Homo sapiens: one gene and its partners. The protein of the gene in region 2 purifies or fractionates together with the protein of the main gene of each other region. This does not show direct contact. Each region holds a gene or a part of one and is shown on either strand. Other genes may lie near its edges.

The links.
Region 1: the proteins of JADE1 (region 2) and KAT6B purify together in Homo sapiens (affinity purification with mass spectrometry, with the first as the bait; one large-scale study listed by BioGRID). This does not show direct contact.
Region 3: the proteins of JADE1 (region 2) and RIOK2 purify together in Homo sapiens (affinity purification with mass spectrometry; one large-scale study listed by BioGRID and IntAct). This does not show direct contact.
Region 4: the proteins of JADE1 (region 2) and HRG purify together in Homo sapiens (affinity purification with mass spectrometry, with the first as the bait; one large-scale study listed by BioGRID). This does not show direct contact.

What each region holds. Positions count from the first base shown.
Region 1 is NC_000010.11:75,029,010-75,033,535, forward strand, and holds the end of KAT6B (histone acetyltransferase KAT6B), read left to right. Parts: coding exon 1-2,037; 3' UTR 2,038-3,615; downstream 3,616-4,526. UniProt on the Homo sapiens protein: Histone acetyltransferase which may be involved in both positive and negative regulation of transcription. Required for RUNX2-dependent transcriptional activation. May be involved in cerebral cortex development.
Region 2 is NC_000004.12:128,811,570-128,816,937, forward strand, and holds part of JADE1 (protein Jade-1), read left to right. Parts: intron 1-115; exon of another isoform or gene 116-253; coding exon of another isoform or gene 254-272; intron 273-274; exon of another isoform or gene 275-405; intron 406-4,878; exon of another isoform or gene 4,879-4,894; intron 4,895-5,368.
Region 3 is NC_000005.10:97,168,812-97,173,337, forward strand, and holds part of RIOK2 (serine/threonine-protein kinase RIO2), read right to left. Parts: intron 4,453-4,526; coding exon 4,364-4,452; intron 2,587-4,363; coding exon 2,395-2,586; intron 42-2,394; coding exon 1-41. UniProt on the Homo sapiens protein: Serine/threonine-protein kinase involved in the final steps of cytoplasmic maturation of the 40S ribosomal subunit. Involved in export of the 40S pre-ribosome particles (pre-40S) from the nucleus to the cytoplasm.
Region 4 is NC_000003.12:186,668,924-186,673,449, reverse strand, and holds part of HRG (histidine-rich glycoprotein precursor), read right to left. Parts: intron 4,516-4,526; coding exon 4,399-4,515; intron 3,513-4,398; coding exon 3,422-3,512; intron 1,828-3,421; coding exon 1,661-1,827; intron 664-1,660; coding exon 583-663; intron 1-582. UniProt on the Homo sapiens protein: Plasma glycoprotein that binds a number of ligands such as heme, heparin, heparan sulfate, thrombospondin, plasminogen, and divalent metal ions. Binds heparin and heparin/glycosaminoglycans in a zinc-dependent manner.

The DNA.
Region 1 (4,526 bases), on a different chromosome or scaffold from region 2:
TCCACGGAAAAAGAAGACTCTGCACGTTTGGATGATCACGAAGAGGAGGAGGAAGAGGATGAAGAGCCATCCCACAACGAGGACCATGATGCCGATGACGAGGATGACAGCCACATGGAGTCTGCCGAAGTGGAGAAGGAAGAGCTGCCCAGAGAAAGCTTCAAAGAAGTACTGGAAAACCAGGAGACTTTTTTAGACCTTAATGTGCAGCCTGGTCACTCGAACCCAGAGGTCTTAATGGACTGTGGCGTCGACCTGACAGCTTCTTGTAACAGTGAGCCCAAGGAGCTTGCTGGGGACCCTGAAGCTGTACCCGAATCTGACGAGGAGCCACCCCCAGGAGAACAGGCACAGAAGCAGGACCAAAAGAACAGCAAGGAAGTCGATACAGAGTTCAAAGAGGGAAACCCAGCAACCATGGAAATCGACTCTGAGACTGTCCAGGCCGTTCAGTCTTTGACCCAGGAGAGCAGCGAACAGGACGACACCTTTCAGGATTGTGCCGAGACTCAAGAGGCCTGTAGAAGCCTACAGAACTACACCCGTGCAGACCAAAGTCCACAGATTGCCACCACGCTCGACGATTGCCAACAGTCGGACCACAGTAGCCCAGTTTCATCCGTCCACTCCCATCCTGGCCAGTCCGTACGTTCTGTCAACAGCCCAAGTGTCCCTGCTCTGGAAAACAGCTACGCCCAAATCAGCCCAGATCAAAGTGCCATCTCAGTGCCATCTCTGCAGAACATGGAAACCAGTCCCATGATGGATGTCCCATCAGTTTCAGATCATTCACAGCAAGTCGTAGACAGTGGATTTAGTGACCTGGGCAGTATCGAGAGCACAACTGAGAACTACGAAAACCCAAGCAGCTACGATTCTACTATGGGAGGCAGCATCTGTGGAAACGGCTCTTCACAGAACAGCTGCTCCTATAGCAACCTCACCTCCAGCAGTCTGACACAGAGCAGCTGTGCTGTCACCCAGCAGATGTCCAACATCAGCGGGAGCTGCAGCATGCTGCAGCAAACCAGCATCAGCTCCCCTCCGACCTGCAGCGTCAAGTCTCCTCAAGGCTGTGTGGTGGAGAGGCCTCCGAGCAGCAGCCAGCAGCTGGCTCAGTGCAGCATGGCTGCTAACTTCACCCCACCCATGCAGCTGGCTGAAATCCCCGAGACGAGCAACGCCAACATTGGCTTATACGAGCGAATGGGTCAGAGTGATTTTGGGGCTGGGCATTACCCGCAGCCGTCAGCCACCTTCAGCCTTGCCAAACTGCAGCAGTTAACTAATACACTTATTGATCATTCATTGCCTTACAGCCATTCCGCTGCTGTGACTTCCTATGCAAACAGTGCCTCTTTGTCCACACCATTAAGTAACACAGGGCTTGTTCAACTTTCTCAGTCTCCACACTCCGTCCCTGGGGGACCCCAAGCACAAGCTACCATGACCCCACCCCCCAACCTGACTCCTCCTCCAATGAATCTGCCGCCGCCTCTTTTGCAACGGAACATGGCTGCATCAAATATTGGCATCTCTCACAGCCAAAGACTGCAAACCCAGATTGCCAGCAAGGGCCACATCTCCATGAGAACCAAGTCAGCGTCTCTGTCACCAGCCGCTGCCACCCATCAGTCACAAATCTATGGGCGCTCCCAGACTGTAGCCATGCAGGGTCCTGCACGGACTTTAACGATGCAAAGAGGCATGAACATGAGTGTGAACCTGATGCCAGCGCCAGCCTACAATGTCAACTCTGTGAACATGAACATGAACACTCTCAACGCCATGAATGGGTACAGCATGTCCCAGCCAATGATGAACAGTGGCTACCACAGCAATCATGGCTATATGAATCAAACGCCCCAATACCCTATGCAGATGCAGATGGGCATGATGGGCACCCAGCCATATGCCCAGCAGCCAATGCAGACCCCACCCCACGGTAACATGATGTACACGGCCCCCGGACATCACGGCTACATGAACACAGGCATGTCCAAACAGTCTCTCAATGGCTCCTACATGAGAAGGTAGACAACGTGGGCAGTCCACAAAACCTACGGGGCATCACTATTGGATTGATCTGCACAAATACCTTTGAAGAGTACGATTTCAAAACCAGCAATTGGTGTGAATGCAAAAACATTTGTTGGCACCATTTATTTAAAAAAAAAAAAAGCTGTATGCAGCAGAAAGCCTTATACAAGTTGTTTTTCTTTTTTTCCTTTTTCTTTTTTTTGGTACCTTCATTTCTGTTACTTTTATATAAAATTCTCTGCAAAGGAAGGCCTCTCTTTGGACTACAATTTGGAGGCAGCCACTTGTTGTGCCTGCTTCTGTTAAACAATGTGGATATCAAGCCCCCCCAAATTATCTGTTTTAATATTGAACCTAGAGCTTTTTTTTTCCCTTCCCTGTCCACTCCATGTAAATGCCTTTAGCATTTCAGTTATTGTATATTTTGTTTAAGGTGACACTTCAGCATGCCGCTAATGTCTTTGTTAGTGACAGTGCATTTTGTAGTACTGTACAAGTGTTGTGCTAACAGTAAGCCATTTCTTAAGTTTTTTGCCTTGATTAGGGTGCCCTAATTTGAGGGTTTTAAAAAAAACTATATTTTTGTTAATTATAAAACTGTAAAGAGCTATAAAAGCTATTCCCATTTGGTTAGTCAAAAGGGTTTTATTGCTAAATGTTTGGTGTAAAGTTGAGACCCTTTTCCATTTTGGTGACAGATTTCTTTGGGGAAAAAAGGCAGCTTTCTGTTTTATAAATGCAGACTTCTGTTTATTGAATGAAGCATATCTCAGTGTTTATCTGTCAGGTTTTGAAACATTTCATATATGTCCAAATACTTGGCAGGATTTAAAAAAAAATAGTGAATTTGGTGTAAAGTTGCTATTTTATGGAAATGCCTCTAACTTTACATTTTCATTCCATCTGTAGATTTTTCTATCTTTATAAAATATTGGAGTTATTTTTTAAGGAAAAATAGAAAAGTAGCTTGTGAATAGCTCAAACTAAGCTTACAAATCGCATGTAAAAAAGCAAAAAAGTTATTTGTGTCTGTTTATATTGCTTCCTTTTTTGTAGCCTTTGTACCTGTACAGGGTGACAGTAAGGGCCAAGCAGGAGAGGCGTAATCCTTGTATAAAATAGGATCCAGCGACACTCTTGTATTTATCTGTTCTCTTTTTAGTCAGTCACTTCAAAAAAACAAAAAACAAACAAAAAAAAGCTGTACATTTTAACATAAAATAAATTATGATGAGCCATTTTTAGCCTCTTGTGTCCTGTCATATTATGATTGATAGAGAATGACCAATGGAACTGTATCATGTGTCACGCCTCAGAACACATACACATTTTGGGAAAATAAATTATTTAGTGTAAATTGGAGTTATGGGATTTTCTGATTTGTTTTGACTTTGGGGGAGGGGTTGGCAATAAATAAGAGTAATATCTAATAAAACCATCACATATACCAAATACCTATTTAATAAATTAATTTATAATGGATTTTAATGCTTTTCATGAAAGTTTATTTTATGCGAGTGCATACCTTCTGTATGCCAATCATTGTCTTTAAAATAAAGTGAAATTGTTTTTTTCTTTTGGACTTTGATCTTCATTTGCAAAGAGATCCCGCACAAATATCCAGCTGCCTCACTCGCACAGTCTGTAGAAACATCCCTCCAAGCCTCGCACCAGGGTAGCAAACTTCCTTTTTATAAAGATTCATACCAAAAAAAGCACCCAATTTGGGATTGTATGTTTGAAAAATCATTTTCTTTTTAAAAAGTGTGAACGTTTTGCTCTGTTGTGAATGATTAATTGTATGTTTTCTTTAGAGTCTAAAGTTTAGACCCCCTGCCAAAAGTGAATATTCACAAGTATAGCGTTCAGAGAAAGTTCTGAGTGTTGCTTGAATTTGGTTATTTGAGCAACAAGTCTAGAAATGAATGCTTGACCTAGCACCCGTGTGAAACTAGCCCGTTAAGCTCTCCAGGTGTCTGAACACGTGTGCTCGCAACTCCTCTGTTAAGCAGGTCACTACCCTGTGGAGGAAAAAAGTTGCTTTTGCACTGTTGATTCAACACACACACACAAAAATTAGATGTTTTACAAAGCATAGACATAAGCCTTAAAGTGGACCCAAAATCGTGCAAGGGCAGGATAGAGCGTACACACCAGAATAAAAGGCCTTGTGCAGACAGAGGGTGCCCAGTGGAGTTCTGCCTTGTACTCTCACCCTTATCGTTATTTTCTTTCACAGTTACAAAGTGTATTGGGTTTAGTGTCACAATTTTATCTTTTAGTCCCTTCCTTCCTCAACTGCAAAGTCAATGGGGGTAATATATGTAACAGCTGAGGGAGGGCTTTCAAGAAGACACGTCTGAAGGGCCGTCAGCACAAAGGGAAAAGATCCATTTAAGCTGCTGTGCTAATAGGAAAAGAAACCTATCAGCCATCCTCAGAGTAGGAAGTGGTGGTCTATGCCTGCACAAATCGAACACTGCGTC
Region 2 (5,368 bases):
CGAGGCGCTGCTTCTCCGCTGCGGCCGGAGCGTCACCTAACGGTCCCAGCTGCGCCGCCCGGGCCGGGGTGGGGGGTTGCGGGGGCGGGGACGCCCGGCCCGCCGCGCCCGCCCCGCACAAAGCCCGCGGCGCGGGGGTGGCCGCTGCGCCCCCGCCCCGGGAACGGCCCGAAGCCCGACGCGGTCCCCGCGCCGGTTCCGGCGGGCGGCCGCAGGCGTTTGTTTGTTGGTTCCGCGCCGCCTTCCTCGCCGGATGGCTTCCTGTGACAGAGGTGATACACAGTTTCCAGAACTGTCTGGGGGCGGGAGCGGGAGCGGGAGCCGAGCCCGCTCGGAGCTCCTCGCCGCCGCTGCCGCTCCCATCTTAAAACCGTTTCTCGCCGGCGCGCCCGCCCCAGCCCGAAGGTGCCGCCCCGGAGGGACTCGGGGAGGGGGACGGCGCGGCCGTTTCCAGCGGCGCAAGTGGCTTCTGGACGCGAGGGAGCGTTTGATTTGCAACTGGGGCCGAGCGGATTGGTGCAGCTGGCGGCGGCGGGGCGGGAGGAGCTGCCGCGGCGGGGGGTGGCCACTTTCAAATGGAGAGGGCGGCGGCGGCGGGGACGCCGCTGCGGAGGGAGCGGGGCTTGGTTGCGCCACGAGAAGGTGTCATCACTGCACCGGGGCTAATTCCGGCGGAGGTGCCGGGAGTTACTTTCCCCTCCTCCCGCGCTGTTGTTTCTGTCGCCTCGGGAGGAGGAGGAGGAGGAGGATTGGGAGAGAGGGAGGGGTCGGCGCCGCGCGGAACCGCGGCCCTGCGCATTCCCCGGCGGGCGGCGGGAGCCGCGCGGAGCGTTCGCCGCTGCGGGGCGGCGGCCGAGCTCCCCCACAACCCCGGGGTGCCCCCCTTGCTGGGATCCTTAGCCTTCTCACGTCCCCTCTCACTCCGCCACCCTCCCACTAGAGCTCCTTATTCTCGAGTCCTCAACCCCGGCTTGGCGCGTCCCGGGTCTCCCCTCGCCCCAGGATTCCTCCCGCGCCAGGCTCCGCTGGCCCCAGGTTTCCCACCCCAAGCGGGTGGGGGCGGCCGCAGTCCCGGCGCCGGTGAATGCTGAGAGCAAACAAAAAAGCGGGCGATTTAAACATGCCTTCGAAACCCGTTAGGAATGCGTCGTCATCCGGAGACCGTTTAAAAGGAGCTTTAGCTTGCCTTCTAGTAACGAGAGGGCTGGCGCCCTGCCTTACTTCGGCAGGGGCGAGGGGCTGTCGCCCTCTATTTGCCCCGGCCAAGAGGGAATTTAAATTTTCTTTTGTAAAATGACAGCTGCAGTGAATGACCTGAGACAGCTACGTTTTTAGGAAAGTAGGAGAGGATCTGAGGTTTCCATTAATGGGAATGCTTAGGGGGTTCTTTCCCAAAGGTTTTTTATTAGGTGAACTATTTTTCCTTTTTATAATACCCGCCATGAAGGCTAGCTCTCTTGCTACTTGTAGCTCAAGGCTAATACCTTTCAAAGCTAATGAACTAGTTTTAAGATAGAGGGAAATTATTTCCCTGAAAGCTGATTTAGGTAGTGACTCCCCAGTGGTTACAGATTTTATAGTAAGTTGCATTTTGATCATATCACAACTGATCAAGATTTAATCACAGGTGGAGAAAGGTGGAGAAAGGAAGCATTCAATATGTCCATACTTGCATTGAGTCAACACTTTTGATGTAATAATTTGTTGTAGGTGGGCAACATACGTGGGGGGAGTTAAATGGGATGTTTTGTGAGTAACACTCTTAGCAAGTACATGCAACCCAGAATTTTTATTGTCCTTTTATCCCAAAGATCTTAGTCTCATTTACTTACGGTCACTTTTTTTTTTTTTTTTTTTTGTTCCTTGAGACAGAGTCTTTCGCTCTGTCACCCAGGCTGGAGTGCAGTGGCATGATCTTAGCTCACTGCAACCTCCGCCTCCTGGGTTCAAGCGATTCTCCTGCCTCAGCCCCCTGAGTAGCTGGGACTACAGGCGCGTGCCACCACGGCTGGCTAATTTTTTTTTGTATTTTTAGTAGAGACGGGGTTTCACCATATTAGCCAGGCTGGTCTCGAACTCCTGACCTCGTGATCCGCCCGCCCCGGCCTCTCAAAGTGCTGGGATTACAGGCGTGAGCCACCACGCCCAGCCTGCTTACGGTCACTTGTAAATCAGATGACTTTCTGCTTGGTATTTTGCTGTCTTCTTCAAAGTTTGGATACTTCTATAAGTGTCTTTTACTTGGCATTGTCATTTTAATGTGTAGAATAAATATAATTTTAAGCTGTTTAAGTGTTAGGTTTCCTGCTATTTCCTTTGGTCCCTATTTAGCAGAGATAATGGGAGTGTCTGAAAGTAAGGTAGAACTTGAACTTGATTCCACCTTTAAGAGTACAGACTGCTTACTAGTAAAAGTTGGGTTGGCTGCACATATATTTTAGCTTTAACAAAGGTAGATATGTGTTCATTTAAAAGAAAAAAAAAAAACCCACCTTCTTAGTTCTCCCCGCTTCACTTGACTGGTTTTCTGCCTGTAAACCAGTGCTGTGCTTATATTAGTTATCCAGGTTGAAAGAGTAGCTATACAGGGACAGCAATGAAAAGTATGTGTGTCTGGGTGAAACTAGAGGGAGAAAACCTATTGGAGTTTGAGGAAATGTGTTTTGTTGCTTAGCCTAGGGGGTTGGAGAAGAAAGATGACCTAAAAAACAAACTTGGAGGACTAGGTGAGAGTAAAAGCAGATTTCCATTGCGTCTTACGTATAGTAGGCACGTGACCGATATTAATTTTTGACTTTAGCTGTTAAAAAGTTATTACACAAGTAGTGTTACATGTACGTTTTTGAAAATTAGAAAATACAAGGAAACAAATATAAAAACAAATTGCTACCATCCATAGATGACTACTGTATTACTTTTCAGATAATTTTCTATGCATGTGCATGTGTGTTTTAATAAAAATGAGATACATGAATATACCATCTGTAAGGATTTTTTCTTTTTTTTTTTTTTTTGAGATGAAGTTTTGCTCATGTTGCCCAGGCTGGAGTGCAATGGTGGGATCTCACTGCAACCTATGCCTCCCAGGTTCAAGCGATTCTCCTGCCTCAGCCTCCTGAGTAGCTGGGATTACAGGCTCCCGCCACCACGCCCAGCTAATTTTTTGTATTTTTAGTAGAGACGGGTTTTCACCATGTTTGTCAGGCTGGTCTTGAACTCCTGACCTCAGGTGATCCACCTGCCTCGGCCTCCCAAAGTGCTGGGATTACAGGCGTGAGCCACCGCACCCAGCTCTGAGGACCTTTTTTTTTTCTGTCAGCTAGCTTGGTTAGTTTTAATATAATCTATTACTGTAACATGTCCAGATTTCCCCATTTAGCCCCAGACTGTAATAGAGAAGCTTTGTCTAAACCACTGCCTAATAAAGGACCATTTATTGCATTTGGTTGTTTCCCTTAAGTCGATTTTAATCTTAAGTAACTTTTTTTTTTTTTTTTTGAGACGGAGGCTTGCTCTGTCACCCAGGCTGGAGTGCAGGGGTGCGATCTCGGCTCCCTGTAAGCTCCGCCTCCCTGTAAGCTCCGCCTCCCTGTAAGCTCCGCCTCCCTGTAAGCTCCGCCTCGCGGGTTCACGCCATTCTCCTGCCTCAGCCTCCAGAGTAGCTGGGACTACAGGCACCCGCCACCATGCCCAGCTAATTTTTTTGTATTTTTATTAAGACGGGGTTTCACCGTGTTAGCCAGGATGGTCTCGATCTCCTGACCTCGTGATCCGCCCGCCTCAGCCTCCCAAAGTTCTGGGGTTACAGGCGTGAGCCACCGTGCCCGGCAATCTTAAGTAACTTTTTGACAGAATATCTGACACTGAGGAGGCAAGCCTTTGGAAATAAAGTTGCCTGGATTTTAAAAAAGCAGGAAATCCAAATGGTATTTATTGTAATTTGGAAATCTTAAATTTGGAGATCATCTGCTTGCTTGATGTTACTTTCCACAGACTTGTTGGAAAAAGATTTATCAGATGTTTGTGTTTCAGTACTGAGGTGGTTGGAACAGTAAACATCAAGATATCAAATACAGATTACATCCTGTCTCTTTAGGGTTTGGTCAGAGAAGAGGAGGCATAGGAATCTGTCACAGTTCTGCTTGCTGCTTTACTTTCTTGTTTGTGAAGCTCTTCCCTGTCATTTAGTATTATGGGGCACCTGTTACAGCATTACAGTTAATGGTCTGTCAGAATTTGCATTATAAAACTGGTTTTCCTGTGAGGTTTATAAAACAGTTATAGAGGGAAATATGACATATTAGCGAACACACCTTGCTTTTTATTTGGGTTGGCATTAAGAGGTTTAGCTTGATTGTTAAAACGGTGAAAGTTACGTCACGTTTAAACTTATTTCCTCCCTTGTACAAGCCTTTAGAGAATTGGCACCATATTCAACAATACTTTTTTTTTTTTTTTAAACATGAAGGGTGGGTTTGCTTGGAGTTTCTGGTTTCTTAGAAGGTATCAGCAATCTTAAATTAGGAAAGTATTTTAATTCCTGAGACAGGTAAGTTGTTTCCTTAAAAGTCTTAAATCTGTTTTCTCCGTTTTCAAGTCCTTGCAGCACTTTATATGACCATGTATTTACAATCTGGACAATTCTTTTTATGTTTGTGGAATGTAATATCTCAGAAGTTGAGATTTAGTTGAGTCTATTGAGTCTATTGTCCTTTGCCTAGTGTATTTCTCATATGAAAACTTTGGTTTGTGATCATGAGGGTGTATGCATTATTTTTATTTTTTCTTTTTTTGCAGTTCATAGCCCTGATGAAGCAAGTTACTCTGCTCTCCTAATAAATGCAAGAAAATGACCTTGGAGGGCCTTTTTAATTACACATAGAAGTGACAATTTGTAAGTTTAAGGTTGGGTGTCATGGAATAGAATGGAAGAAATTGATGCTAAAAACTTTGGCTATGATGGGGCCTTTCCTAGCCCAGGACTTGAATGATTATTAAGGATCCTTTCCTCACCTCAAAGCACAAACATAAAGATTACCAGACTTGGACTGGAAAGCCTTTATCACTAGGAAAGGGGCCATGTATTTTTACGTTTAATCCCTTAGACCCATAGTGTACGATGTGCACACAGTAAATGTTCAGTGACCAAATTTTGGTTACTCTAAAACGAATTCAGTATTTACTTTTTGCCTTTAGTTCTTCAGGTAGAGGTAGGACATAATGTGATAGAGAGCAGTTGAAGAAAGTTAATTTTTAAAACCTTAGATTTTTTTGGGCTTACTTGTTGAGGGAAGTAAACTACATTTTCTCTCTCTTTTTTTTTTTTTGAGACAAGTTCTTGCTCTGTCACCCAGGGTGGAGTGCAGTG
Region 3 (4,526 bases), on a different chromosome or scaffold from region 2:
TAAAGAAATCTTTAATGCATTTAACATCTCTGTCAAAATACCTGCAAAAGCAAGAATCATTTATGATATAGTCTTTATTGCTCCTCTTTTTCCTTATTAGCCAATGACAATATACTTATTGGTTAATGGTATTGCTCCTCCTTACACAAGGAGATAAAAGATGTTACACAAAAGAAAAAAGATACAAATGAGTTAACCAGTGTGTTTGAAAAACTAAAATCCAAGGAAATCTCAAGGATATAAGCTGTCAATGCCATGCAGTTCCTACGGTTAGGAAAGTCAAGGTTTTGTCATAGTTACTGGTATATAGTTAGATACACTAGGGAAAGATGAATGTGAACCCCAGGAAATAAGATAATGGGCCTATGGTTTGGGGATAGGTTTCCACTTATTCTGTTCGTCCTGAGTCTGGCTATGCTTCTTATCAGCAACACTCACTAGAACCCCTAGCCAACTGAAAGATCTGACGATAAAAAGATATTAATATTAAACAGTTAAGTTTGGAGACTACTGAATTATGTTTATGTATCTTTGTTATCCATTAGCCGATTTGCAATAACACCCAAAGGGATAAATAATGCTACAGCCTATAAAAATAATCTGAGGACATGTTAATCTGGACCAAAAGTAGAACAATATCTGAATATCAGGCTGCCTTTTTGGGCCACCACAAAGCAGCAAAAATGGATTCAATTCTCTAGAAGATTTCCAGACAAGGGAGAATTAAGGACAGGATAATGTGCAATTGACTCTCTTTGAGAAAGATGAAGTTTGGAAATAGGAAGATAATGCCTCTCCTCTTTGCTCACAGGGTACTCTGGGAAAAATACTAATACATTTTAAAAAGACTATTTTATATATGTTTACATCTCCCTACGAGACAGTAACATTTTCTAAAGCATATATAGGGGTTATTTATATCTCAATCTCTAGCAATTAGCACAGCTCCTTGGCCCCAGAACTGGTTCATAAAAATTGAAATTAAATCACAATGTCTCTCCATAGAACGATGCAGCCTAAACCTAGAATGTCATAATCTGTCACACTCTGGAGGCTCCTAGATGTTCCTTTACTGTGTGACTATGTTACTCCTTATTAATAAAAATCATGATTAGTCATCATCCAAAGAGTACTGACCACCCCAGTGCCAGGCATTAATCTTTTAGTATTATTTTGTTGAAAACGTTTTAAAAATTTATTTTCAAATGACATTTCTTTCTGTAGCATAAGTATAGACATTTTCTACTGGAAACCAGGATGAAGAGACGCTTCACTTAACAAAACTACTTCAAGCTCAATCTCTGGAAGAATTAATATACTCTATTATATAAGTGATACTAGTTGTTAGTTTAGGAAAAAAGTTTCTCATAAAGCTTGGAACAGAAAGAAAAAAAAATCCTTAGTTACACTCAATTGAATCATAAACCTCAAGCAAATAAAGGATAAGGTCCTGTTTCATGACTTGGCTGGCTTGGTTTAAATAAGTAATGTGAAGAATATGATTATCGCAGTATATCATGATTCTGCACTGTGTCAGAGATAAAGTTTTATGTGATTTTTTTTCTAATAAATAAAGCTAAAAGTGACAAGAGGTAATTATCACTGGTTTGACAACTGAGTCCAGTCCAAAACCACAACTTTTATTCAGATCATCGAGATTACTGAGTTATACTTGGTGAATCTCTCTTGGAGGCAATCATGGAACAGCAAGAAAAAGGGAAAGACAAAAGTGGTTCTAGAGTTCCCCACTACACTCCCTACTTTTACCTGTTTTAACAATTGGTCTTCCATCTAAAAGTCTGTTTGAACAAAGGGTTCCATGGCTAAGAAAATTTGACTTTTGAACGTCTGTCAATTTACAACAGAGAAATTCAAATTCTTATGGGGAAAACTCTAGTAGTTATACTTTAATAAAAAACCAAATTTTTATAACGTTAACACTAGCCACTTCAAACCAGTGACTGACCTAAATAATAGTATCACAAAATTGAAAAATTATGAAAAAATGATTATATTCTAAACAAACACACCCACATCCAGAATCAATAATAGCATGTAAGGGCCGGGCGCAATGGCTCACCCCTGTAATCCCAGCACTTTGGGAGGCCGAGGCGGGTGGATCACCTGAGGTCAGGAGTTCAAGACCAGCCTGACCAACATGGAGAAACCCCATCTCTACTAAAAAAAAAAATACAAAAAATTAGCCAGGTGTGGTGGCACATGTCTGTTATCCCAGCTCCTCGGGAGGCTGAGGCAGGAGCATTGCTTGAACCCGGGAGGTGGAAGTTGCAGTGAGCCGAGATCGCGCCATTGCACTCCAGCTTGGGCAACAAGCAAAACTCCGTCTCCAAAAAAATAAAATAAAATAAAAATAAAAAAATAGCAAGTACGTACCACTCAGCATTGGGATGAGAAGTTGAAACCATCTGTGGAAAATCAATCATGGTGATATGGTCACTTTCATCCAAAATGAGATTAAATTCATTAAAATCTCCATGAATCAGCCCATGATTTGCAAGTTTGACAATTAGTTCCATAGCTTCATCATATACTGATGCAGGATCTTCAACATGGTGTATCTGACATCTGAAAGTATTTTAAGCATGAAAATAGGTTACTTGTGTTCATTTACGGTTTTAACGAAAGTATGTATGCATGTGAACATATATATTATTTCCATGCTGTGTATCCCCAGCAGCTTTCTTCTCATTCCCATCAGCACACAGATATAATATCTCCCATCTATTAAAAAAATAGCCACACTGCTTCAATTCTGTATCTCTTTTCTACTACTACCTTTCTTTGATCTTTACAGCCAAACTTGTCTACATGTGCTTTTCCAATTTGTTTCCTCCTACTCTCTCATACCATTTCAAACAGGCTTTTTATAACGTTAACACTAGCCACTTCAAACCAGTGAGTGACCTAAATAATAGTATCACAAAATTGAAAAATTATGAAAAAATGATTATATTCTAAACAAACACACCCACATCCAGAATCAATAATAGCATGTACGGGCCAGGCGCAATGGCTCACCCCTGTAATCCTAGCACTTTGGGAGGCCAAAGTGCTTCCAAGATCACCCTTGTTGAGACTACAATGACTTCAATGTTGCTAAATCCAAAGGTCAATTCTTAGTCCTCATCATATGTGGTCTGTCAGTTGACCTCTTTGAACATTTTCTTCACTTAACTCTTGGGACACCATTCTCTCCAGGTGTTCTTCCTTCCTCACAGATCATACCTTCTTAGTCTTTTCTATTTGTACTTCATCTTTTTCCTTGACCTCTAAATTCTGGAGTTCCTCAAAGGTCAATCCTATGACCTTTTATTTTCTCTTATTTAGACTCATTCTTGGTGATCTCATCTAGGTTAATGGTTTAAATACCACATATACACTGATTTTAATGTAGACTTCTCTAACTCCCAGGCATCTCAAACTTAGCATGTCCAAAATGGAATCTCTGATTCTGTCCCACCCTCCAACTCCAAAATGCTGTTCCTGTAGCTTTCCTGTTTCTATACATGGTAGATTTCTCCTTCCAGTTAATTTGCTACTCAGGGGAAAAACCTTGGTGTCACCATTGACTCATCCCTTCCTTCACATCCATATCCAATCTCAAATCATGTTGGTTCAACCTGCAGAACACATTCAGAATCTGACCACTTTTCATCACCTTCACAACTATCACTGTAATCAGAATTACAACCATTTCTTGCCTAGATTATTGTAATAGCCTCTTAACTTGTCTTCCTAATTCTTTGTCTCCCCAGAGTCTATTAATTCAGCAAGCAGAGTGACCCTCTGAAAACACTGAGATCACTGATTGATGAGATCACATCTCTTCTCTGCTCAAAATACTCCCACTCCAATAGCTGCTAATCTGAATCAAAATTTGATGAGGTTTCACCTTATTAGTGAGACTTTTCTTGACCACCCTACATAAAACAGTAGTCTCCTGTCCCGTTAGTACTTCCTATCTCCCTTACTCTGCTTTTTTTTATCCATAGTACTTACTAACAATTGATATACATTTCCTTTAGTTATTTATTGCACATCTCCTTCCATCAGAATGTAAATTCCATGAGGGCAGGGACTTTGTTTTGTTCACTGCTGAGATTAAAAGTTCCTGGCACCTAACAGTCTCTTAATATTGAATGAATGAATGAATCACAGAGATTACAAAGTTCATATTGTCAGAATGAAACTGGGTTTTTAATTTGTCTTTGAGTCTATTCCTTTAAATAAATTTTAACCTCCCAGAGGCAATATTTCATTAACTAAAAAAAATTTTATTAAAAACCCTGAAACTTAAATTCATTTATCAGGATTCATGGCTTTAAGAATAATGAATACTTACAGTGGATAACCATTTATGAGTTCCATGACCACTGCATGACGATTGTAATCAATTGGCTTTGGAACTGGAAATTTCCTCTCATACAATGCCTAAAATGTTGCAAAACAGGTGTAAGCTAATGAACAGGTCATTACTCTTTAAAGAACAATAAAAGTAAATATAC
Region 4 (4,526 bases), on a different chromosome or scaffold from region 2:
ATCTCATATGGTAGTGTGAGGGTTAATAAGTTATCATAGGCTGGGCATGGTGGCTTGCGCCTGTAACCCCAGCACTTTGATTTGTAATCCCAGCCGAAGTGGGTGGACACCTGAGATAAGGAGTTTGAGACCAACCTGATCAACATGGTGAAACCCCATCTCTACTAAAAATACAAAAATTAGCTGGGCGTGGTGGTGCATGCCTGTAATCCCAGTTACTCCGGAGGCTGAGGCAGGAGAATCGCCTGAACCCGGGAGGCGGAGGTTGCAGTGAGCCGACACTGTGCCATTGCACTCCAACCTGGGCAACAAGAGCGAAACTCCATCTCAAAAACAAAACAAAACAATAAGTTATCTGATGTGTAAATCACTTAGAAGAGTGCCTGGCAGGTACTAAGTGCTTCCCAGATGATACTTTGTATTTCACAGACATTTCTTCCTCCTTCTCCTCCTCCTCATTTTCTCCTTCTCATTCCTCTTCTCCTTCTTCTCCTTCCTCTCCTTCTCCTTCTCCTTCTCCTTCTTCTCTTTCTTTTTTCTCTGTGACTCTAGTCAACGATCACAGACATTTCTTATACTCACATTGGGGTGTCTGGGGAAATGGTGTCTGGGGCAGTTCCGCACAGAGAAGTCCACGAAGTAACCAGTTCCTTCCCCTCCTCTCTAGAACAGATGGGATCAAAATAGTTTCAAGAACAGACAAAGAAAAAGGAAAAAAAAGCAGTAGATAACTACCATTCAATATTTTTTAAGGCAGTATGAGAATTCAAAATCACCAGTATGTGTCATTTTTTAAAATGGTTTCTGCCTTTTAAAAATGTATCACCTAAGTGATAAGGTGAATACCAGTTCACTGAAAAGGTTCAAATAATAAATATATGATAAAGTAGAGTGTGAAAAATCACCTCTCCTGCACTCCAACTTCTTCCCAGAGTTTTCATTCTCATTTATTTGATGTGTTTCCTCTTCGAGTGTTTTCCTAGATGTGTTACACATACACAGGGAGATCTAAGTGTTTCATATAAATGGGTCCATAGTCTAAGTACTGTTCTATAACCTGCATTTTCCTATACCAATATGTTTTCAAACTCCAGTGCGCATGGGTCCAAACATTCTTTGAGCAACTGCATGGTACTCATTTCCTTACTTGTATGCAACACAATCTATTTAACGCTGCATTTTCTGAATGCATAGCAAATGTCAACCAGTTGCTCTACAAGACAGCTCTGGGTGAAAGTACTTGGGTCCTTGTAGAGAGAGCAGGGAACCATCTAACTATAGGCACATTACTGGGTGTGGTGAGGTAATTTCTCTGAACTTCAGTTTTCCATCATAGTACAAGAATGTTAGTATTGGATGATTTGCAATGACACAACCCTCATATGTTCTTGTCTTTCCCTGTTTCCTCTTTAGATTTTCTCCCTACTCTGTCAGATGTCTACTCCCCTACCCATCCTTCAAAAAAAAAAAAAAGTGTTTGAGGAAAGCAATTTTTTTGTATTTTTTAAATACCTGCTGCCTGTCTTTTATGGCCTCAAAAGTGACAAATTAAAAGGCAGCTAGTCAATTGAGGCAGGTGGAGAGGGTATGCCATTCAGTTCCTGCTGCCAGGTTGGAGCCTGGGCCTTCAGACTCCAACCGAACCTTAGTGGAGACTCACCACTCTTGCAACTCTCTCGATTCGGTCCACTCTGAAAGAGGCAAAGTCATCATTCTCCTCTTTGTACTTCTCAAGGGCTTTGTTGGCTTGTTTTCTGTAGCGCTCAGTATCCTCAAAGAAATCTATGAGGACCGGACTATCTTTGGTATTGGCCAGTGCTGAAGAGACTGGAGAAAGAAGATAGCAGTGTCACAGTAAAGGGCTGGAAATGTTAATGGTGGCTTGGTGGCAAGAATGACAATAACTTTCATTTTAAGGATGGGCAAATTGAGGGTGGGAAGAGCTGAGTAACTGCTTCAAGATCAATCAGCCATTTGGCAACCGAACTAAACTGCTGATTCTTCCTTCGAGTCTTTCTGATCCCCATGTCTATGTTGTGACCCCTACTCATGATGCCTTCACCAGTACCACTGATAAAGTGCTAACATATATATATAAATATGACAACTATGACATTCGTTAATATATAAATATATATTATCTATTATATAATATCTATTATATATTTATATATTATATAATATATCATATGTTTTTATATTATATAATCATATATTTAGGTATTAATATGATATATATATTAACATATATATTAAATAATAGAGATGGGGTTGAGTCACATTGCCCAGGCTAGTCTCAAACTCCTGGGCTCAAGCAACCCTCTGGCCTCAACCTCCCAAAGTGCTGGGATTATAGATGTGAGCCACCGCACCAGGCCACTAATATTTTAATAAGTTCTTCCTGTTGTTGCCAAGGGGGAAGACAGAGCATTAACATAGAGTTTTGCCCAGAGAGAGGAGAAGATACAGATCATCCTTTCTTCAATGCAAACTCCTGTGGCAGTATCTTGCATTTTTGTATATAATATCATATTTGGATTTGCTATTTTAAAAAGGAATCCTGTGATAATTCTATTTGAAAATGTAAATTAAAAGGGTATGGAGGCTGGGCGTGGTGGCTCACACCTGTAATCCCAGCACTTTGGGAGGTCAAGGTGGGCAGATCACCTGAGGTCAAGAGTTTGAGGCCAGCCTGACCAACATGGAGAAACTCCATCTCTACTAAAAATACAAAATTTGTTGGATGTGGTGGCATATGCCTGTAATCCTAGCTACTTGGGAGGCTGAGACAGGAGAATTGCTTGAACCCGGGAGGTGGAGGTTGCAGTGACCCGAGATCACACTATTGCACTCCAGCCTGGGTAGCAAGAGCGACACTCTGTCTCAAAAATAAAAATAAATAAATAAAAAAGCTGTGGAATTTAGAGTTAATACTCCTGGGATTGTGTCACATCTTCACAATATCTTGGCTTTGTTCTTGAGGCCAAGTCATTTAACTTCTTTGAGCATCAATTATTTTGTCTTAAATAGAAAGTGTCATAACCTTTACTTCATAGTCCCAAGACTTTACTTCCTCCCAAGACTATACAACTGGCAGATGATGACTCAAGCTAAAGCAAGCCTGACTCCAAAGCCTATATCTATAATGAGGCTAACCTACCTCTCCTAAATCTCTATTTTTATGTGTTGAATTTCTTTAAAAGAAGGTGTACCAGTACCAGGGAAATTTGTCTCAATTCTATTCTCTGGAGAATGAATAATAATGGAGTCTATGAAGGCTTTTCTTTCATGTACATCATAGATATACATGAATACATCTGAATATATATGAATACATATGTACATAGATGAGACAAATACCACTGTATGATTGAATTTGTATTAATCAAGAATTAATTAGCAATTTAACAGATTACCATACCAGAACTTGTGGTGCAGTTAAAGTCAATCACTCTGAGGTCCTGAGATTCATGGGAATGTCTTGTAGCTATTACCTTACATTGTCCGATCACCTGTAAGAAAGAGGCTCTTGAGGACTTGCTGAGTCATTGCATCCTGCCTTCCTCAGGTCAGATATGAAAGAGCAAAAAGGTGATGCAACATCCTCCTACTGTTCATTTAAAAATGCATTTCTTTCATCAAAGCTTGTCTCAAACCCTGCATTTTCTTAGTCAGTTTCTGTGTGCTGCATCCTGTTGGCACTCAAAATCCTCAGGAGAACCAGCGAGAAACTATTTAAAGCATCATGGCCATACCCCAAACATTTTCAAGGGAAAAAGTGGTGAAAGTTCCAGGAGTGTGAACCTCTCATTTTCTGGAAATGAAATCTTGAATCTCTGCTTATTCATCTTCATGTTCTCCACCTGTGTCAGAGAGCCTGGCATGTCAATACCCACCTCCCACATGCAAAGCCAGATCTTATTCCTCAGTGTATATCCTAGGTGCTGAGCAAGACCCAATTCCTCACTGCAAGTAATTACTTTGGCCATTCCTGAAAATAGGACCATTGTTCATAGGACACAATTACAAGTTCATAGATTCTGATACCTGTAGACTGTCAAGAGTGGAAGGCCCTTAGAGTCCATGAATTCCTAAACCCACTTCTTATTTTACAGTCAAAAAACACCAAAGTGGAGGGATGTTATTAGATGATTTACCCAAGGACCCACAGCTGGTTATGCTCTTTGATGGGACCACACACCCTGCTGAGTTGTCTTGAACTGGGTTCCCAGGAAAGACTCTCAAGAGTATTGCTCAAGGTTAACATCATCTTCATGAATCTCAAGGCAAAAGCTGCCCTTTCTCTTCTACTGTGTTAGCCCAGGCATTGGCTGAGTGAACAGAGTAGATGGAAAATAAGAATGAAAAGAGCAGAGTGAAGGTGCCCTCTTTACTTACTATTTCAGATGGACGTCTGGAATCAGGTGGCTCACAGTCATTCCAGTATTTCCTGGATAGGACCGAACAGTCCGATTCTTGCACATCTAAGACTAAGTAATATACAGTTGTATTTTCCTGAGGAATGC